3 separate regions of the Homo sapiens genome follow, and all the other regions are linked to region 2. The links come from fine-mapping of genetic effects on gene expression. A gene starts in region 2. Each other region holds a variant in brackets. All regions are shown on one strand. Distances are from middle to middle.

The links. PIP is the estimated chance that this variant, and not a neighbour inherited with it, causes the effect. A credible set is the group of variants that fine-mapping cannot tell apart.
Region 1: its variant is the best candidate, but not a certain one, in a credible set for the expression of RHCG in prefrontal cortex (BrainSeq, PIP 0.88).
Region 3: its variant is the best candidate, but not a certain one, in a credible set for the expression of RHCG in anterior cingulate cortex (GTEx, PIP 0.58).

Annotation. Positions count from the first base shown.
Region 1 is chr15:89,465,944-89,471,166 of GRCh38, forward strand. LOC105370964 (a long non-coding RNA gene) reads right to left here and starts at 3,329. Exons shown (of 3, transcript XR_932600.4): 1 at 3,207-3,329. LOC112268153 (a long non-coding RNA gene) reads left to right here. Exons shown (of 2, transcript XR_002957725.2): 2 at 3,211-3,788. The variant A/C (reference allele first, on the strand shown) is at 2,920.
Region 2 is chr15:89,494,702-89,499,896 of GRCh38, forward strand. RHCG (Rh family C glycoprotein) reads right to left here and starts at 1,882. Exons shown (of 11, transcript NM_016321.3): 1 at 1,660-1,882. The coding sequence starts at 1,843.
Region 3 is chr15:89,437,389-89,442,611 of GRCh38, forward strand. No RefSeq gene overlaps it. Among named protein-coding and RNA genes, the nearest start is that of RHCG, 57 kb to the right of the region's middle. RefSeq lists enhancers at 3,548-4,227, 4,228-4,907, 4,373-4,522. The variant C/T (reference allele first, on the strand shown) is at 2,857.

The DNA of each region.
Region 1 (5,223 bases), 29 kb before region 2:
TGCAAGCAAGAAAAGGCCTAGCACCCATAGTTGAGGTATTACTTACCCATGGGCTCTTAAAACCTTGCAATTCTCCCTGCAACACCCCCATCTTAACCGTTCTAAAGCTTTTGGGGAAATACAGGGTAGTATAGGTTCTCAGAATAATTAATGAGGCTGTTATCTCTCTCCACCCATTGATGATGGATCTATATACCCTACTGGCTCAGGTACCAGGGGATGCAAAATGGTTCTCAGTCCTACACCTAAAAGATGCTTTCTTCTTCATTCCTCTGGTTCCAGAGTCCCAATACCCTTTTGCCTTTGAATGGGAAAATCCTAATACCAGAGAAAAACACTTGGGCAGTGCTCCCCTAAGGCTTTTGGGATAGCCCCCACTTCTTTGCCCAACCCTTAGAGAGGGATCTGAGGGGTCTGCAATTGGAGGATGGGAGTATACTCCAGTATGTGGATCACCTTCTTGTGTATAGCCCAACCCAAGAGGCTTCTGACCAAAATACTATAAAAACCTTACATTTCCCGGCTGACAGGTCATACAAAGTGTCCAAAAAGAAGGCTCAGATTACTCTCCAACAGGTCCACTGTTTAGGGTACATCTTAACACCTGGAACCTGCAAGTATCCCCAGAACGAGTGCAAGCCATATGTGGTTTGGGCCCCTCCACCCCAAGCAGCAGCTTCATTCTTTTTGGGGAATGGCCAGGTTTTGTGGAATATGAGTACCAAATTTAGGGCTCATAGCAAAGCCCCTGTATGAAGCAACAAGGAGGCCTGAAAATGAGCTAATGGAATGGACCCTGGAAATGAGAGAAGCCTGTGCCAAGCTAAAATAGGCCCTTACCCAGGCTCCAGCTCTTGGGATCCCAGACCTAACTAAGCCCTTCCCTTGTATGTAGCAGAGACGAATGGCATAGCTGTGGGAGTGCTAGTCCAGAAATTAGGATCAGAACCCAGACCAAACACCTACTTTTCAAAGAAGTTGGAGAGAGTGGCCTTGGGATGGCCAAGTTGCCTGTGGGTAACAGCAGCCATTGCTATGTTAGTGGAGGAAGCCACTAAAATCACCCTGAGCCAATCACTGGAAGTTCTAACCCCCCATCAGGTAAAGTCAGTCTTAGAGATAAAAGGACACATCTGGGTGATGGGGGAAAGGTTAACCAAATACCAGGCCGTGCTCCTAGACAATCCAGATGTAACCCTTAAAACCTGTAACACTTTGAATCCAGCTTCATTGATACCCATAGGCCCAATGACAGATCATTCCTGCGAGCCAGTCATTGCACATGCATATGTTAGCTGGCCTAATTTAAAAGATCAGCCTCTCCCAGATTCTGAGGACTTGTTCACAGATGGCAGTTCTGTGTCAAATGGGGAACACTGAGCTGTGTATGCAATAGTCAATCACAACACCCTTATCGAAGCCCAGCCACTGCCCCTTGGCACATCAGCACAAAAGGCTGAAATCATTGCTCTTACCCGAGCATTAATTTTGGGACAAAATAAAAAGCTTAACATCTATACAGATTCTAAATATGGCATTCCTTGTGGTTCACGCTTATGCTGCAATCTAGAAAGAAAGGGGACTACTAGCTAGCAAACCCTCCCCCATAAAGCATGGGCCTGAAATTCTTCAGCTATTGTAAACAATACACCTGCCACAGGCCATAGCTATAATCCATTGTAGGGGGCATCAAAGGGACTTAACTCCTATAGCACAAGGGAACAGAAAGGTTGATAGAGAAGCCAAAGCCACATCCCTCAGGGTGCAATCCCAACAGATCCTAGCACTGATTCCTTTCTATGATTCCCAGTGGATCCCAAATACACACTACAGGAAGAACAGTTAATAAAGGAGCAAGTGGGGCAAAAAAAAAAAAAAAAAAAAAAAGATCCTGGTGGTATATGAGATCAAAAATACATCTGCCTCAAACAGCCCAATGGAGAATTATAAAAACCCTGGATGACTCCTTCCATATGGGGAGAGATGCCACCCTGGCCATGGTTAACAGGCTCTTCATTGGGCCTAACTTAACTTCGGTGGTTAAGCAGGCCTGTCAAGCCTGCTCACTGTGTGCACTTAACCCAGGAAACAAAATGCCTCCTCTAATAGAACCAGACCAGAGGAGAGGAACTTACCCAGGGGAAGACTGGTAATTAGACTTCACCCATATGCCAGCTTGCAGAGGATACAAGTTTTTGTGAGTGCTAATAGATATCTTTACTGGTTGGGTCAAAGCTTACCCTACCAGAACAGAGAAGGCTAATGAGGCTATAAAGTTTCCCTTAAAAGAAATAATCCCCCGGTCTGGGTTACCTCAGAGCCTCCAAAGTGATAATGGCTCATCTTTTATCTCCCAAATAACTCAAGGGGTTGCTAAGGCTCTTGGAATCAAATACTATTTACATTCAGCATGGAGGCCTCAATCCTCCAGGAAAGTAGAAATGGCTAACCAAACTCTAAAATGAGTGTTAGCTAAACTATGTCAGGAAACATCAAAAACTTGGGTCAGCTTACTGCCTATAGCCCTCTTAAGGATCCGTAATACCCCTAGAGCAAAAATTAATATAACCCCCTATGAAATGTTATATGGAAGGCCATTCTTAACTAGTGATTTAATTACTGATCCAGAAACAGCCAGTTTAGCAAGATACCTAGTTAACTTAAGACAATTTCAGCAGGCTTTACAAAAGTTTGGAACTCAAAGGCCCCACCATACCGGGAACTAACCAGCAACCCAAAATCAGGCTAAGGGATAAGGTACTTGTTAAAACATAGAAGGAGGGATCACCTGCTCAACAATTGCAACCCCAATGGAAGGGACCGTTTTTAGTGGTACTGGCTATGCCTTCTATGGTCAAGGTACTAGGATTAGATAGTTGGATACATCTTTCAAGGATCAAGTCTGTGATACCTGAAGCC[A/C]GGGACCAGGAGCCTGAAGTTTCCATCAGACAGTCAAAAGACAAGTAAATGCCTACCAACTTTCCTTGGTGTTTTTGTTGCATAGTTACTGTAGGCTGGATAATAGCAGCCATGTTCTCAGATTTCTTGCAGTTTAGGTGCTTTCTTTCAAACGATTGGAATCACTTCCTTTGTAGTGACTAAGCAGACTGTTGTAATTCATTCCTATAACAAACATTCCTGACAGCATAGGTATCCACCCCCTGAAGTTCCCATTAAATCTTTTAACCAAATTCATTTCCTCTCACCTAGAGACCATCAAGTTTCAGATGATCCTGTGACAAGGTTTCCAGCCTGTTCCAAATGAAGGCAGCACCCCTGGCCATCAAGAAACTACCCAGTCTCCACTCGATAGATAAAGGCAGGAGTTCGGGGATCCCCAATAGGTAGGGACTGCACCTCAAGTCAGGGTGACGCAGTTACAGAAGAAAGACCATCAGTCACTCTGTCTCCCATAAAGATTTCTGGGGATCATGTCTCTCGGGGGAAATGAGGCAGGAGAATAGGGTCTGGAGGCAGGGAACCTAAGTTCGATGCATGCTGACTGGATATCAGAGGCTACTCCCTTTCAACCCCTCCTTTTTCTGCATGGCAGTTGCTGCCTGGCAGTTGGAAATGAAAGTACCTCGGATTGGTTCCCTCCCGCAACCAATCAGACTGGTTGCGGGCCACTACTTTATGTGCATAGAGTGAACAGATGGGAAACCCCTGGAGGGTATTTAAACCCCAGAAAATCCTGTAGCCCAGGCTCTTGAGCCTCTTGCTCGAGCCCGCTCCCACCCTGTGGAGTGTACTTTCGTTTAAAATAAATCTCTGCTTTTGCTGCCTTGCTTTGTGCATTTGGTCTAATTCTTTGTTCAAAATGCCAAGAACTTGGACAACTATCCTCAACTGGTAACAGACGCGGTGGGCATAGGCTCTTAGTGTAGCCTGCACATTGCACAGGAGGGAGTTGGAAGCCAGCGCTGGCCCCCTCCCCTCCCTGTGCAGCCCCCAGGACCCAGGTCATGTGATCAGGAGGAGGGGTGAGCCCCAGAGCCCTAAAAGCCTGGCTCTGGGTTGGGCCCAATACTGTTGGCCTGGTGGTGCCTGGGATTGGGGTGGGAGGGGTGGGAGGTGGGCTTCAGGAACCACCCCCCCAGCACCCCTTCGCACCCCGCCCCCCACGCCACCCTGCACCCTCTCACGCTGCGGGCCCCTCCCAGGCCCTTCATAGGCATATGGGGCTGGGCCAAGCGGCTCTGCTGGGGGAGGGAGGCTGGGGCTCAGATCAGCTGAAATCAAAGCCACAGCTCCCTCCCCGCCACGCCGCACCCCTGCCGAGCGCCGCGCACCTTCTCCTTTGTCACAATGTTTTTCAATCCGGTGAAGCAAACTGTCCAATTAGAGCCAGGGTCTCCGGCTTCCATCTTTGCCGACGTTTAATTAACATGCTCCTCTTGGCAGCTGCTGACAAGTTCCAGAAACAGGTTGTAAAGGGTTTTTGTCTTTACCCAGCATGGAAAATGAGGGGTGTTACATCGCGGGTACATGAATAGGTTGCATTTCAGATCCCTCCTTCCCCTCCCCCCTGCACTGGTAAGAGGCATGCAGCGGTGTGTGTGTGTGTGTGTGTGTGTGTGTGTGTGTGTGTGTGTGTGTGTGTGTGTGAATTGCAAGGGGGCGGGGAGGGCGGAGTTGGAAGCTGAGAGACCTCCTCCCTTTTCCCTCACCCCTTCTTCCCAGGAGCCTTTGCTCCACAAAAGATCCGGATTCCAAGTCTTATTCTCCAACTGGCACACTTCTGCCTCACATCTCTTCTAGCCAGTAGCAGACTTCACCGTGTTAATTCCTACCCATGGGTCTGTGCCCATGCTGTTTCTTTGCCATCCTTCTGGTAAACTCCTATTCAGCCTCCAGAACCCTGCTCAGGTGGCCCTGCTTTGAGAAGCCAACTGGGTACAGACTTCCTGTCCAGCCACACCTGTCAGAGTTCAGCATGGATTCTGAGGGTCAGGTCTGTCTCCCAGCTAGACTGTGAGCCCCTGAGGGCAGGAAGGTGTATTACTCTGCCCAGGGTGGTGGTGAGCCTGGGAGATCTACCCTCCTGAAACCTTACCCCACTGTCCAGGGAAAAGAAGGCTGGCTTGGCAGAGAGAAAGAAGGGAAGGGATGGGGAGGAGGAGATGGGCCCAAAGGAGCCCTCCCTCCCTTCTCGCAGTCCTGCTGGAGTGCCCAGAGCAGGACCACATGGAGGGCACAACAGAGATGCCAGCTTTCTCAAGG
Region 2 (5,195 bases):
GTGCTGTCATAGCTCACTGTAGCTTCAAACTCCCAAGCTCAAGCGATCCTCCCACCTCAGCCTCCCAAAGTATGCTGGGATTACAGGTGTGAGCCATCGCACCCAGCCTATTTAAGGTCTTGAGGTCCTCCACTCCCCAGACACATTGAGGACCTGTGAACGCCCATGGGAGTTCTTGCCCCTTATGCTCTGGGGTCAAGTGGGAAGCAAGTGCGGGAGGGAGGGAGAAGAACAGGTAAAGGAGGGTCTCAAGCTTGCCTGCCTCACTGTTTGCTGGAAAGTCCCCCCCTTGAGGAGAGGAAAGGTGGACAATGTGAACAGTGGATTTGGAGCCTGAATCCCAAGGCTGCAGCTGTCTAAGATATCTTTTAAAAAACAGCCCTAAATGGAGCCCAGGAGAAACTGTGGTCTCCCCAGCAGGGGGCGCACCCCTTATCTGTTACTTCCCTTCTAGGCACCAAGTAACTATTAAATGCAGCCCATGATAGCCCTAACTTTTTGGCAGCCACTTAATATGGCTGGCTCCCACCAAGCCTGCAGCCCCCCAAACGCAGTCTTTTTTCATGCAGGCTGCCATTCTGAAAGTGTGCAGTTGTTTTCTTGGAGATAGAGAATCCCCTGTTGCCGAGAATGTCTAAGGTGTGGAGGGAATACCAGTTGATATAGGCGGCTGCTGGAGAGGGGCTTTAGGGTCCCTTTCAAAGCTAACAGTCAATGACTACATGAACACCACCGGCTAGAATAATTTTCATTGGCTGATGGCGGATGGAGTGGAAAATCAGAAAGTACAAGGGCATTCTGATTTTGGGAAGAGCCCCAGGCTGGGAGTCCAGAGGTCGGGCAGCTCAGAGTGACCTTGGGCTAGCTCTCCCTGCTCCTGAGTCCTAGGGCACCTGTGTTTGGTGCTCTTGTAGCAATTGCTCCATTATGAAGAAAGGATCCCACCCCAACTCTGCCAGAGCTTTACATGCACTTCCTCGCCACAGCCTCACCCCAACCCCTGTGAAGGAGGTCCTACCATTATCTTCATTCTGTAGATGAGGAAATTGAGGTTTAGGAAGGTTGGCATTTGCCTGAGGCCAGCCACCTGGTTTGTGGCAAGAGCCACGAGAGCATGAGAGAAAGGGAGGTGTGTGATTGTAGGGTCATGCTCTTAACCACAGCACCGCTGACACCAGAAGATTCAGGGGCGCTTGTTTTCCCTCTCCAAGCTAAAAGGGGGTGGGTGTCCTGGCCTCCTGGCCCACCAGTGGTCCCACAACACCTCTGCCCACAGCAGGGCTGGCGCTTATTTGGAGTAAGCGCTCCTCTGGACAAGGGAGCCAGGTCATCCACTGGTTGGTAATGGGGCGAGAGGACTCGGATCTTCTTAGTATACCAAGCAGGGCTCTCTGACAGGGATGTTGGGGGGCTCTGACGGCTGGGAGGGCGGTCAAATAAAAACCTCATCCCGGTGTTTTCCCTACTAGTTTTTCACGGGGAAAAGGAGTTTGTGCACATCTGACAATTTCCCACGCATGCCCTGCAGAGGCCGGCGAGATGCGGAGTCCGCGGCTGCAGGGTAGATCCCCTCCTCTGCCCAGCTCTGGGCCGAGCCCTTGGCCAGGTGGGGACCGGCGCGGATATGCCTCCGCTGGGCCTGCAGGCGGCGAGACTTACTTGGGTAGCGATAGTAGAATTCGTTCTCCATGTCGCTCAAGTTCTTGTGCGTCCTCTCTGACCACCAGTGGGCGTCGGCCTCGAAGTCGTAGCGCACGAACACCCCGAAGAGAATCACCATAATCACCTGCAGGAGCAGGCAGGTGAGCGGCAGCCGCCAGCGGAGGTTGGTGTTCCAGGCCATGCTGCAGGGGTGCCTGGCCGGGCTGGCAGCGGGCGGTTCGGACGCTCGGAGGCCGGCGGGGCTTTTGAGACCCGGGCAGGGGGGCGGGGCGGCCACGTGGGGCACGGAGCAGCTGACTCGGGCACCGCCCGCGCGCTCGCCCAACTGGCAGGGGCCCAACCCAAGCCGAGGGCCCCAAAAGATTCCCCGCGTCGGGCTGGGGGACAGCGGCAGGAGCAGAGGCTAAGGCAGTGGGCAGGAGGATCAGGGTGCCCCAAATTCTGTGTGTCCCGTTGATACTGGGGCCTTTCTCCTTTTGTTCTGCTGAACAGAGAAACACGGGGATCATTGGCCTCCCAGTGAGATCAGAAGGAATTCCCAGACCTAAGTCATCATCATCAACATCATCATCATCTGCCATCATCATCTGCATCATCATCTGTCCTTTCTTTTTCTGATTATGAAATTCATACAGGGCACATGAGAAACAAGGAATGTTTGGGACACTGTCACACAACAGAGCGGCCTGGGGAGACATCTGTGATGTGCTACCCCAGACTTGACCCTGGAACAGAAAAAGGATGTTAATTGGAAAACTGGTAAAATCCAAATAAAGCCTGAAAATTAGTTAATAGTGACGTTCCCATGTTGTTTTCTTAGTTGGGACAAATGTCATGGTTATGTAAAATGTTAACAGTAGGATAAACTGAGTAAGGGCTATATGGGGACTGTCTTTGCCACTTTTCTGTAAATCTAAAATTATTCCAAAATACAAGGGTTTTAAGAAAAAAAACACGTATAAAGGATTGTAAGAACAATTTAAGAGTTTTTCACAAGTTCATTGGTCCATAGTCAGGAACTGTCTTCTGGTTAAGATCTGTGATCTTGACATGAGTTAACCATAATATTTAGGTCTGGGAATTCCTTCTGATCTCACTGGGAGGCCAATGATCCCCATGTTTCTCTGTTCAGCAGTATAACAGTCTGTATATTGTCTGCTTAGTCTGTATATTGTCAAAATAAATTTGATTTTCTAATTTTTCTTTAAAAATACAGAGATAATTGTAGAGATTTGGAAAATACAGAAAAACACAAAGAAGAAAGTAAAAATCACTCATAATCCCACCACCCAGAGGCAATACTAATATTTTGGTGTATGTACTCTAGTCTTTTCCTAGCTCATTGAAGAGGGGCTGGAGGGGAGCAGGGGGAGTGTTTCAAACGATCATACTAATTTATAGCGTTTTTAACTCCTTTCATATTTTGTAAACACCTTCCCATATTATACTTCTACAACTTTTTTTCTTTTTCTTTTTCTTTTTTATTTATTTATTTTTTTGAGATAGGGTCTTGCTCTGATGCCCAGGCTGGAGGGCAGTGGCTTGATCATGGTTCACTGCTGCCTTGACCTCCTGGGCTCAAGTGATCCTCCCACTTCAGCCTCCCAATTAGCTGAAACCACAGGCATGTGCCACCAGGCCCACCTAATTTTTTTTTTTTTTTTTTTTTTTTTTTTGAGACAGGTCTCGCTCTGTTGCCCAGGCTGGAGTGCAGTGGGGTGATCTCGGCTCACTGCAAGCTCCGCCTCCCGGGTTCACACCATTCTCTGGCCTCAGCCTCCTGAGTAGCTGGGACTATAGGCGTGCGCCACCGCGCCCGGCTAAGTTTTTTTTTTTTGTAGAGATGGGGTCTCCCTATCTTGCCCAGGGTGGTCTTGAACTTATGGGCTCAAGTGATCCTCCCACCTCAGCCTCTCAAAATGCTGGGATTACAGGCATGAGCCACCACACCCAGCCTGCCACAACATAACTTTTATAGCAGGATATACTGTGCTTTATCTAGACAATCCCTAGTGTTAGGTGACGAGCGATGAGGTCATTTTTTATTTGTTTAGTATTACAAATCATGCTGTCATGAACATCCAGATATGTAAGTCTTTGCACAACTTTCTGTGAATTCCTGGAGGCAGAGCTGTTTCAATACATATCTCTAGATGTTCCCCTAGAAAGATTTTACGAGACAAAGCATGCACCCTGTGAGCCAGGGGTCAGTGACTTTTCCCATGCACTCTTGCCAATGCTGGCTTTAAAAAATCTTGCCAGTTGAAATCCCAGATTTGTAAAAGCCACTAATGCCATGTATAACATCTGAGGCTAAGCACCTAATCAGGGTGCTTGGAACTTGAGTGTGGCCACACTGTGCCAGCTTGGGGTACCAGGGTATCCCCACTCCCTTGGCAAAGAAGCAGCCAGACACTGCATGAGCAATACCAGCAATAGGGACCATTTATTAAGTTCCTGCGGTTGCCGGATCCTTTTGATATATATTTAAATTCTCAACTAAACACTTGTGAAGTGGACATTGTAGGTACATGCTACAGTTGAAAAACCTGAGTTCTCAGATTGGCTAAGGAACTTGCTGGAGATTCAAACCCTGGGCTGTCTGATTTCAAAGGCTGTAGTCTTTCTACTGTGCCATTCTGCTTGTCCCCTCTGGAAGGAGCGAGAAGGAGGGTTTGACTTCGTGCATGTGCATTCACTGCTGGGGAGAAAAACTTCAAGTACACGGCAATGGGAGTAAGTGGAGGGAGGGAGACAAGGGCTGGGGTGGGGGAGGCTGCTGCAAGTAGATTCATGAGCATCTAGGTTCCCCACAGGAGCAGTGGCGTTATGGGATAGAGGGCAGTGGGTGGCGTGGTCCCTGAAGCCTGGGCCGGGAGGGGGCAGGTGGAAGACCTGCTCACCAGGCTGGCCTGCTTAAAGGATAGGGAAGCCGGGGTGTCTTGCTCATTGTGAGAACTGCCCTCCCATCCAGACCTCCTCCAGAGTCCCCTAGCACACCTGTGGTGCTGGAACCCGGGACCCCCTTGGGGGACTCCTTGATGGGGCAGGGTACAGGGTCCAGGAGAGAGACGCTGACTCACAAGCCCTGCAGAGGCTCAGTGGGACAGACCTGGAGCCACAGCCAAGCACGGTCACTACCCACAGCCAGCACAAGAAGGCCGTTTGCCCTTGACCTTCATATTTGGTAGACTCAAGGTACAAACGATGGGCTTCAGACTACAAAGGGGATACAAGGTTCAAGGGAGACACTGTTATCAGATGGTTTTTTTCTTGGGTTACATTTCTGGGCCACTCAACTAATATAGGTCATCATGAATTAACATTCAAAAACAAGTCCTGGCCGGGCACAGTGGCTCACACCTGTAATCCCAGCACTTTGGGAGGCTGAGGCGGGTGGATCATTTGAGGCCAGGAGTTTGAGACCAGCCTGGCCAACATGGTGAAACCCCGTCTCTACTAAAAATACAAAAATTAGCTGGCTGTGATGGCAGGCGCCTGTAATCCAGCTACTCGGGAGGCTGAGACAGAGG
Region 3 (5,223 bases), 57 kb before region 2:
AAAGGGAGGTCTTGGGCTTCCTCTACTGAAGTCCCTCATTTTACAGATGGGCCCAGAGAGGGTATGCAACTTGCCCAAGGTCACATAGCTCAGGGCACTGAAGTACCATGTAGCCACTTGTCCATGGGAATACAAATAATCATAGTTACCATTAATTGAGTAACTACTCAGTGTTAGGTCCTGTGCCAGGTACTTTATATCTATTCCGTGATATCAACCCTTTAGAATAGGTGTTACTGTTGCTTTTTACTTTGCACAGGGAACTGAAACACAGAGAAGTCCAATGACTTGTCCAAGGTCACACGGCTAGAAGGCAGAAGAGCAAGGATTCAGCCTGGGTTGGCTCAACTCTCACCTGTGTTTTTGTTGTTGTTGTTGTTATTTTGTTTGTTTGTTTTGAGACATAGTCACATAGTCTCACTCACCTCCTCCTCTCCTCTCCTTAAGCCTTTAAGCATTGGCATGCTAAGTCATATGACATCTAGTCTCATTCTGTCGTCCAGGTTGGAGTGCAGTGGCACAATCTCGGCTCACTGCAACCTCTGCCTCCCAGGTTCAAGCCATTCTCCTGCCTTAGCCTCCCAAGTAGCTGGGACTATAGACACACACCACCACGCCTGGCTAATTTTTTTGTATTTTTGTATTTTTTGCTATGTATTTTGCTATGTACTTTTCACTGTGTTGGTCAGGCTGGTCTTGAACTCCTGACCTCAAGTGATCTGCCTGCCTCAGCTTCCCAAAATGCTGTGATTACAGGCGTGAGTCACTGTGCCGGGCCCAACTCTGAGCATTCATGAGATCTGCTGGAGTCATTAGCTCTAGCTCCGTCCTGCTCAGGACTCACTGGTCACTGACTTCCCCAGAGCCTGCTTGAGGTCCCACAGGGGCCTCTGTGTTATACCAGACTGTCCTCTGTCAGCCCAGACCTGAGGCCACATCATACACCTAGATCCTGCCTGAGATGAGACCACCAGTTCAACCAGGCAGCCTGTCCTGCTTGCTCAGGCCCCGCACATGAGGGCAGAGGACAATCTTGGGAGAGCAGGGTCAGGGAGGAAAGCCTTGGAGCATCTCCTCTTCCCATCTGTCTGCCCACCCAGGAGCCCTCCCTCTGAGATTTCATATGAATTCAGCATCCACAGAAGCTCAGGGTAGCGGTGAGAGTGCAGCCACAGCTGTGGGGATGAGGCCAGAAAAGAGGCAGCAAGAGACACTCCAACCCCTCACTGCCCCTTGGAGCACAAGGAGACCTGTCAGATATGGGAGGGCAATGGGCTACCCCCTCTGGAAGAGGCGCTAAGCTTGGGCCTCTTGCCAGCTCTAGAGAGGGGCTGACTCCGGCTGAGCCAGGTCGGTGTAGACCAGAATGTCTGCAGGAGGCTGCTCAGTCCAGCAACTAGGTTCTTGCCGTTCACATGGCTTCCCTGCACTCGTGGGTCACAGGTCCTCTTGGTGTGGGAGCAGTAAGGGATCCAGGTGGCAGGGAGACCCTGGTGCTGGTCGGCTGAGCACCCCAGACTAAATGTGTGCCAACACTAGGACCTGAGGGGAGAAAAGAAATGGGTCCACTTGACAGATGAGGAAACTGAAACCCAGACTGGGGAAGACAGTTTTGTGAGTTCACACAGTAGATGACACACAGTCCTGGCTCTTGGAGGGTAGGATTCTGGGAGGACCACCAGGGGATCCCCTCCTCATCCCATACTGGCTCACCAGCCCAAGAGTGCTCAGAGCTTGGAGGACTGCTATCGGGAAGCCGGGCAACTCCTTCCCAGAACAGGGCTTGGGTCCAGAGGGAGTGCTCACGGGGGTCCTGCCTGCAGCACCAGAGCTAGCCCATATGGCATCTCCATTTGAGTTGGAAAAGAGGACCCCTCTCCCTATCACTTTACCTCCCTTTGCTGGATGGTAAACACCCCAGCCTTTCTTTTTTCTTTTTTTTTGACAGAGTCTCCCTCTGTCACCCAGGCTGGAGTGCAGTGGCACGATCTCGGCTCACTGAAACCTCCACCTCTCAGGTTCAAGCGATTCTCTTGCCTCAGCCTCCCAAGTAGCTGGGATTACAGGCACCCACCACCATGCCCGGCTAATTTTTTTGTATTTTTAGTGGAGTCGGGGTTTCACTATGTTGGTCAGGCTGGTCTTGAACTCCTGACCTCAAGCAATCCACCCACCTCGGCCTCACAAAGTGCTGGGATTATAGGCATGAGCCACCGCCCCAGCCCACACCCAGACTTTCTGATCCAGTGCCTGAGGGCACCCCACTCACCTGGCCCCTCTCCATGCCCCTCTCTTCCCTCTGCCATCACCTCTCTCTACAGCCCCTCTTCCTTCTCTATCTACCCTCTTGTTCTCTGAGCTCAGCTGTGCCATGTCCCCAGTGCCCCCAGAAGTCCCAGCTTTCCAGAGGGGCTTGCACAGGCCTCTTGAAGCTGGCCTCCGTCTGCCTCCGCTTGCCCCAGCAGACCCACGTTAGCACCTGCCGTGCCTTTGGGCAAGACACCATCCCTCCTTCCTTGCCTGGACTGCTCCTGAGCATGCATCCGGTCTTAGTGGTCCCTTCTTTTAGGACGCCTTTGCGCCTTTGTGGCCCCATTGGCTGACTTAGCTGCCCCTCTGCGAGGCTTCTCCTTGGGTGGGCCTGCATGTTGCATGCTGACACTCTGGTTGTGGCTTCCCCAGGGGACACAAGGCTTCCAGAGCAAGGGAGTCTATGTCTCTCACCCAGCTGCATCTCTATGCCTAGACCCAGAATAAAAATCGCTACTATTTAATGAATATAATGAATGTTTCCTATGTACCAGACAATGTGCAGAACATGTTATATACCATGCCTCAGTGACTCTTCACAATGAC[C/T]TCTTATATTCTATTACTAATAATAAGTACTAACAATAATACATGCTATCATTAAGCCCCTTCTACAGGTAAAGAAACTTGAGTCCCAGAAAAGTTTCCTGTTCAGGAGTATGCTTGAATCTTCTGTGACATGTACTGTCTCTGGGAAAATGAGAATTGAATGAACTGGTGAATAAACTGCAAGGATCTTCAGAGATGGGCAGGGAGAAACTGGGCTGCTTCTCTCACCAGAGGGTGGCATCGGGTCCCTGATCCCAGCAGGGACTGTGTCCCAGCCCAAAGGGCTCCAGAACCTTCCGAGACTAGCTCTGGGTCCAAGCCTCAGGTATGAGATGTATGAGCCTCATTCTGTGAGTTCTGGGCCCGCCTCTGTAAAATGGGCATTGCAATCCTGCCCTGGCTACCTGCATGCTGGTTTCAGGGGCTCAGGCCCAATCCTGAATGTCAACATGCTTGAAAATGGTAAGCCGGGTGCAGTGACTCAATCCTGTAATCTCAGCACTTTGGGAGGCTGAAGTGGAAGGATCCCTTGTGCCCAGGAGTTTGTGACCTGCCTGGGCAACATAGCGAGACTCCGTCTCTAAAATAATTTTTTACACCACTTTGGGAGGCTGAGGCAGGCAGATCACTTGAGGTCAGGAGTTCGAGACTAGCCTGACCAATGTGGTAAAACCCTGTCTCTACTGAAAATACAAAAATTAGCAGGTGTGGCGGCAGGTGCCTGTAATCTCAGCTACTCGGGAGGTTGAGGCAGGATAATCACTTGAACCCAGGAGGCGGAAGTTGCAGTGAGCCGAGATCGCACCATTGCACTCCAGCCTGGGCAACGAGAGCGAAACTCTGTCTCAAAAAAATAAATAAATGAATAAATAAATTTTAAATATTAGCCAGGTGTGGTGGTGCACACCTATAGCCCCAACTACCTGGGAGGCTGAGGCAGGGGGAATCGCTTGAGCCCAGGAGCTGGAGGTTGCCGTGAGCCAGGCTGGTAGCTGTCCACTGTGCCATGAGCTCAGAGGGGAGTGAGAGGGTGGCAGGTCACCAGAAGCTAGAAAGCTGCCCCCTGAGGCAATGCAGCTAGAGCTGCACAGGCTCTGTCCACCTGCTGTGTCAGGGAGGAGGGAGGGGAGGAAGAGGGAGGGCACAGCTGGGGCAGTGGGCACAAAGCCAGCACCAGGTCAGGCAGGCCCAGTGGGCAGATCAGGGTCAGTGGCCTGGGTGAGGTCTAGGGCACCCAGATGCCCATGCTCTTCCCAAGGCCACTGTGGCTTCCCACTAATCCTGGGCATAGGGAGGGGTGGAGCCAGGAGGGCGGAGCAAACCTTACAGCCTGAGGGGAGCACCTGTGGGTGGGGCTTGGGAGAGGAACTGAGAGAGGAACTGAGGCCGCACAGGAAGGAGCCGGTCAGTGAAGCAAGGCTGAGTGTTCACTTATTCAACAACCTTTATTGAGCCCCTTTATTGAGCATGATGATCCAGGCATCATGATATACAGCTCTAAACAAAACACATGACCATCCCTGCCTCACAGAGCTGACATTCTGGTGGAGGAGGTGGGCAATAAACAAGATAAATAAGTACATCATAGAGATGAGCTGAAGGTGAGGAATAAAGCAGGAAGGTGAACAGGGTGTGCTGGGGCCGCCATTGCAAATGGGCCAGGGAAGGCCTCATTAAGAGGGTGACATTTGAGCAAAGGCATGAAGCCAACCATGATCCCGACCCACCTATTCATGCTTTTGAGTCAAGTTCGGATGTCAGCTCTGAGACTGCAGGGGTATTGGTTGTTTTCACTGGTGGATCCCAAGCACTCGGGTAGGGCCTGGTGCCTGGTTCAATACATATTTGTGGATATGATAGAAATGAAAAAAGGAGTCAAGCATTTGGCATCCAGTCATTGCCGGGGCTGGTGCTGGGGTTCTCCTGGTGAGGATTCCAGCCCCCACCCTCCTGGGACAATGCCTGAAAGCCACTGACCCTACTGGAAAAGCAGAAAGGGGCGGGGGGCAGTAGGCCAGCTCCAGGGCGGGGAAGTTTGCTGTGTACAGGCAAGACGATGTCGTCTTGCTTGGGTTCCTGGGTCTCACAGGGTCTGTGGTATGTGGTGCCGTGCGGTCAGAGACCATGGTGGTGGCTGGGACCCTCTAATGTGCTTCTGGAGCCAGGTTTCAGTGGCTTACACGGGGCAGCTGAGGGTGCTCTGTGTCAGCGGGGGTAGCGGCAGGGGCTCTAGGTTCTGGTTGCCGCCTGCCACCCCCTGGGAAGGTAGTAGGTGGTGGCTGGGTTGCCTGGGAGTCACCTGCCCCCCTTCATGACTGGGTCCTGATGCCATCCTAAGTCTCTGTGGGGTGGGGGTGCTGTGGCAGC